Regions from separate parts of the Homo sapiens genome. Here region 2 is linked to region 1. The links come from fine-mapping of genetic effects on gene expression. Tissue or cell type: atrial appendage. Region 1 holds a variant in brackets; the other region holds the start of a gene. All regions are shown on one strand. Distances are from middle to middle.

Region 1 (2,918 bases):
TTGTTGGGGGGCTTAGAATTTATTTTTGGTTTACATGTTATGCAGAATTTTCTACAGATGATGATGCCCTCTGTGAGTAATGATAATCTCACTCTTTTCTTTCCAAACATGATGTGTTTTTTGCTTGTCTGAGTAAGCCGACTAGGATTCCTGGCACCATCGTGAACGGCTCTGGTGGGCACAGGCAGCCCTCTGCTGCTTCTGATCTTAGGTGGGAAACTGTCATATTTCACCACTAATAAAATTTTAAAAGACAATTCTGGCAAAGATCAGAAATGGCAAAGACAGTGGAGGGTGACAGAGGGGTTTGCCTGCAACAGTTCATGTTTTTTATTTTGTTAAAAGAGAGTTACAATTATTACAGAATATTATCGGGTAGAAAACAAATGGCATTTGTCTTACATTATTCTTTCTACTTTGCTTTTTGTTTTTAAAAAATATACCAGAGAAATGAAAATAAAGTCAGCCTCCATAAAATTATGAAGAAGAAAGGCAGTATCATAATGATTATGCAGGAACCAAGGACTGGCCTGGAAGATGGGCCCCCAAGCTCACAGGGACACCAGCAGGCACTGCTTCTAGACATGGAGCCTCAGTTCCAGAATGTCCCGTGACATGACCAGGAGTAGGGAACCAGCCCTCCCGACCTCCATGTCTTATTTGCCAGGCAGGGGTAACTGCAGGCTGGCCCTGACCAGGATGACCACTGGCTCCCACTGTGGATGCATTTCGTGCGTGGCCTGCATTGGACATCGGCTCACCCATGTGCTGGGGTGTCCAGGGTCCAGGGGAAGCTCCAGGACACATTTGAGGATCAGGAGAGCAACCTGCATAGTGCAGGACTCTTGTCAGGGAGACCACGACCCGGGAGCCTTTCCTAGAAGACACAGAGTCCCCAAAAATACCTGTGACAAGGGTCTCATCACAGCACTGTCTGAGAGTGCTTGGAGAGAGGGAACCTGCCTGCAGCTGTTCCCAGAGCAGTGGGGCGGGGGACACTCCCCTACTGAAGAAGGCATTTCCTTTTGGCGCCTCCAGTTCCCCCTGCCAGGACGTCAGCACCCAGGCTCTGATGTGGGCTGCTGGGGGCCACGGCACTGCAATGCTGCCCTGGATTGAATGGGGCGGGGGCTATAGATGTATAATACAAGTTGGATTTTAGAGACTTGGTATGTGGCATAGAGTCTCAAATGTCCAAAGATGTGTCGCATTGATTTCAGGGTGAGTGGATAGTTGTTCTGATATACTGAGTTCAGTAAAATACATCGGCAGCAGGAATTTTACCGGTTACTGTTTCGTTTTTGTAAATATGGCTACCACAAAATATAAGGGCACGCAGGTTCACGCCCTCACCCAGCACTGGCCTCCCCTTCCCAGACAATCAGCCACATCTTCGCCTGCCAGCATGGCCCCTTGTTCTCAGGGCTCCTGCCCTCATGCTCCTGTGTCCTCCAGTCCCCCTGCCCTCTAGGAAGCCTCGTGGCTGATGGGGCTTTGCTCAACCTGGTCTCGCGCTCACCTCCACCTTTGGCTCTAAGGCTTGTCATCCCTAAATGAGTGCCACCGTCACGGAAGCTTCAGGTCCACAGAGCTGGATGCCCCGGCCAGGCCTGCCAGCCTCATTCCTCGTCCAGAGCACAGTAGCTCCTGCAGGTTCCCCTCCTATTTGACCAAAATAACCCTCCCGATCCCCTAAATTTAAAACTTCAGTGTGGACCCTGCCTGGGGTTCCAGGACCCCAGCCCCTCTGCTTCGCTCTCCACAGC[G/A]TTTATCACTCGACCCGTACCAGGCTCCTTACCCGTTTCTCCTATTTCTCTCTCCCTTTAGGAGGGCAAGACTATTGTTCACTGCTATTTCCCCACAGCTAGAACGGTGCTTAGAGGTACGCAGGTGTGCACACCCAGGTGCACACACACAGGAATGCACACAGATACACACTCACAAATACACACACATCTTGTATGTGTGAAAATAAGTAAATCAAACATCTTCATATTGTTTCAGTACTTTAATATTTTAGCTCTTTAAAAGATTCCACATTTACATGGTAGTGTTTCCTATTCAGCATTTTTCCCTTGATCACTCTGTCCTATTCGAAAATATTCTAAAACAATTTCTGAAGCCAAACCATCGAACTCTTCAAGACTAGGTCTCTAAGCAAATATGCCAAACAGACCCGATTCAAAGTCAGGGAAACCACAAGGCTGTCAGCCCAGCATGTTCCGTTGAAAGGCGAGTCTGAAGCAACGTCCCAGACCCCTGAGGTGGGCTCCATCCCAGCAGCTCCCCTGGGTCTGTGCAGGGCCCCCCACGCCTCCGAGTCGGAGCCAGCTCTCAACTGGCCAAAAAGAAGATGTGATGACTGTGAGAGCCTCTCCAGGTCCTTCGGGTCGGACCTGTCACCTAATTGGGTGAATTACGGCTGAATAGGTGAGGACTGTTTAACTGCCTTCAGGCATCTTTCAGATTGTGTGGTTAGCTAAGCCAGCTGCTGCAAGAAATGGAAACAAACTCATTCCAGGGTTGCCTCTGGAAGACGCAGGTGCCCACGGCCCTCCAGTCCCCCTGAATCCTCATCTTAAAATAAAATAGGTTGGCCCTTTTTCATTACTAAACTTATTCAAATACAGGTGTCCAGCTTGCACGGAATTACCCTCCATTTTCCATTTTTATGCACTAAATGCATACGCATATTTCTAGACTATTAGTTTCTTCATTTTTTTCTTTACAAAAGAGGACTCTTTCTGCTTTTATTAATTTTGACGATTTTCTCTAATATACTGTAAGATTTAATGCATGTTATTTTCTAATTGCTGTATTTCATCCTGGATTAAAGTAACCTCAAAAAATAATCATCAAGAAGAGATGGAAAGAAAAGAGGGGAATGAGAAAAAAATGAACTTTACCTTTCAACAAAT
Region 2 (2,918 bases), 26 kb before region 1:
ACACAGTCGTCTCCTCTGACCTTCCCAAATGCTGCACGGACAAGTGTTTGTAGTCCCTAACTCTCAGGACAATGTAGACTTGGTATACCTTCGGGCACGGGGAATCCCATCCTTCTTCCTGTTCCTGCCGCTCTGAAGCATGTGGTGTATGTTTAATGGGGATTTTACACAATATGGGAAGACCACTTCTGCTTTCTATGCAGTGATAATACTGCAATAAGAAAAAATGAACCAAGCCACCAAAACAAAACAGTACCACCTGATGCAGAACTAGGAGGGAAACACAGCAGTGTCTCAGAGCTAATGCAGCAGCCAGGCACCACGACGGTGTCATGGGTACAAGGAGGAGGTGTCTCAGAGCTAATGCTCTGTGCTGACAGCAGCCAGGCACCACGACGGTGCCATGGGTACAAGGAGGAGGTGTCTCAGAGCTAATGCTCTGTGCTGACAGCAGCCAGGCACCACGACGGTGTCATGGGTACAAGGAGGAGGTGTCTCAGAGCTAATGCTCTGTGCTGACAGCAGCCAGGCACCATGACGGTGCCATGGGTACAAGGAGGAGGTGTCTCAGAGCTAATGCTCTGTGCTGACAGCAGCCAGGCACCACGACGGTGTCATGGGTACAAGGAGGAGGTGTCTCAGAGCTAATGCTCTGTGCTGACAGCAGCCAGGCACCACGACGGTGTCATGGGTACAAGGAGGAGGTGTCTCAGAGCTAATGCTCTGTGCTGACAGCAGCCAGGCACCACGACGGTGCCATGGGTACAAGGAGGAGGTGTCTCAGAGCTAATGCTCTGTGCTGACAGCAGCCAGGCACCACGACGGTGTCATGGGTACAAGGAGGAGGTGTCTCAGAGCTAATGCTCTGTGCTGACAGCAGCCAGGCACCACGACGGTGTCATGGGTACAAGGAGGAGGTGTCTCAGAGCTAATGCTCTGTGCTGACAGCAGCCAGGCACCACGATGGTGCCATGGGTACAAGGAGGAGGTGCCTGGTTTTCGGGAGCTTGCCATCTGAACAGACCCAAGGTGGCAAATACACAGTGAGAAAATGGGGCCATGAGTGCTGTAATTACCTACAGAATGTTTAGGGGGACTGGGAGCAAAAACAATCCCCTCTTTCAGAAACCAATCCTGGAAGGTGCTGGAAGGTTGTACTAGCTGTGAAAGTCAGAGGCCACCAGGCAGCTATCGTGAGACCAAAGGCAGTAGTCAGCTCAGGCAAGCCGGTTTCCTTATTTATGTCAAATTCCTCAGTCTTGGGTCTCCTTATCTTTTAAATAAGGAGTTAGAATAGAATTTGAGGGCTGTTCACTCAGGCATCCATGGTGGCTGCAGCATAAGGAGTGTGTGGTGTCAGGATGGGAAGGGCAACATGGAGACTGCATGGCCATTGACGTCTGAAAGTCTCTGGTTGCCAAAAAGAATCTATCTACAACAGCATTCATCCTGACAGCAGCCAACAGGCAGCCTAGACCTGGCATGCCACAGCTCCTCTAGGCTCTGAACCCCTCTCAGCTGAGCCTGGTAGATGCCAGCTGACCGGCTGCAGCCCCTGAGTAGAGGTTGGCTGTCCTAGCAATAGAGTAGGGCGGGGGCACAGCAGACATGGGACCATCATCTGGATTCCTAGACGTGCAACTGCAAGTGAGTACATAACCTCCTGAGCCCCAGCTCTCACCTGAAAGCTGAGTTAGGCGCACACACAGGAAGGCAGAGATGGGTCCAGGGCTGGGCTTCTGGTTCCTCTACTCAAACTCTGCTGCTCCCTGCCCCTCTGCCATCCCTGCAAGCTCCTCACTGACCATGCTTGTCTCAAGCGTTCTCTCTTCCTCCTGACCTCCTGGGGACTTCATAAATCCAGTATCTTTTTAAAATAATCTATTATTTTAGGCTCAGGGCTACATGTACAGGTTTGCTATACAGGTAAACTCATGTCTGGGGGTTTGTTGTACAGATTATTTCATCACCCTACATGTACAGGTTTGCTATGTAGGTAAACTCATGTCTGGGGGGTTTGTTGTACAGATTATTTCATCACCCTACATGTACAGGTTTGCTATACAAGTAAACTCATGTCTGGGGGGTTTGTTGTACAGATTATTTCATCACCCTACATGTACAGGTTTGCTATACAAGTAAACTCATGTCTGGGGGGTTTGTTGTACAGATTATTTCATCACCCTACATGTACAGGTTTGCTATACAAGTAAACTCATGTCTGGGGGGTTTGTTGTACAGATTATTTCATCACCCTACATGTACAGGTTTGCTATACAGGTAAACTCATGTCTGGGGGTTTGTTGTACAGATTATTTCATCACCCTACATGTACAGGTTTGCTATACAGGTAAACTCATGTCTGGGGGGTTTGTTGTACAGATTATTTCATCACCCTACATGTACAGGTTTGCTATACAGGTAAACTCATGTCTGGGGGTTTGTTGTACAGATTATTTCATCACCCTACATGTACAGGTTTGCTATACAGGTAAACTCATGTCTGGGGGGTTTGTTGTACAGATTATTTCATCACCCTACATGTACAGGTTTGCTATGTAGGTAAACTCATGTCTGGGGGGTTTGTTGTACAGATTATTTCATCACCCTACATGTACAGGTTTGCTATACAGGTAAACTCATGTCTGGGGGTTTGTTGGACAGATTATTTCATCACCCTACATGTACAGGTTTGCTATGCAGGTAAACTCATGTCTGGGGGTTTGTTGTACAGATTATTTCATCACCCTACATGTACAGGTTTGCTATACAGGTAAACTCATGTCTGGGGGTTTGTTGTACAGATTATTTCATCACCCTACATGTACAGGTTTGCTATACAGGTAAACTCATGTCTGGGGGGTTTGTTGTACAGATTATTTCATCACCCTACATGTACAGGTTTGCTGTGTAGGTAA

The links. PIP is the estimated chance that this variant, and not a neighbour inherited with it, causes the effect.
Region 2: it holds the start of LINC01880, and the variant in region 1 is fine-mapped to the expression of LINC01880 in atrial appendage (GTEx, PIP 0.94).

What each region holds. Positions count from the first base shown.
Region 1 is chr2:242,056,413-242,059,330 of GRCh38, reverse strand. All of the region lies in intron 3 of LINC01237 (long intergenic non-protein coding RNA 1237), which reads right to left. The region is part of intron 2 of LINC01880 (long intergenic non-protein coding RNA 1880); the gene reads left to right. Among named protein-coding and RNA genes, the nearest start is that of LINC01880, 26 kb to the left of the region's middle. The variant G/A (reference allele first, on the strand shown) is at 1,767.
Region 2 is chr2:242,082,825-242,085,742 of GRCh38, reverse strand. It overlaps LINC01880 (long intergenic non-protein coding RNA 1880), which reads left to right and starts at 1,605. Exons shown (of 4, transcript NR_146651.1): 1 at 1,605-1,647.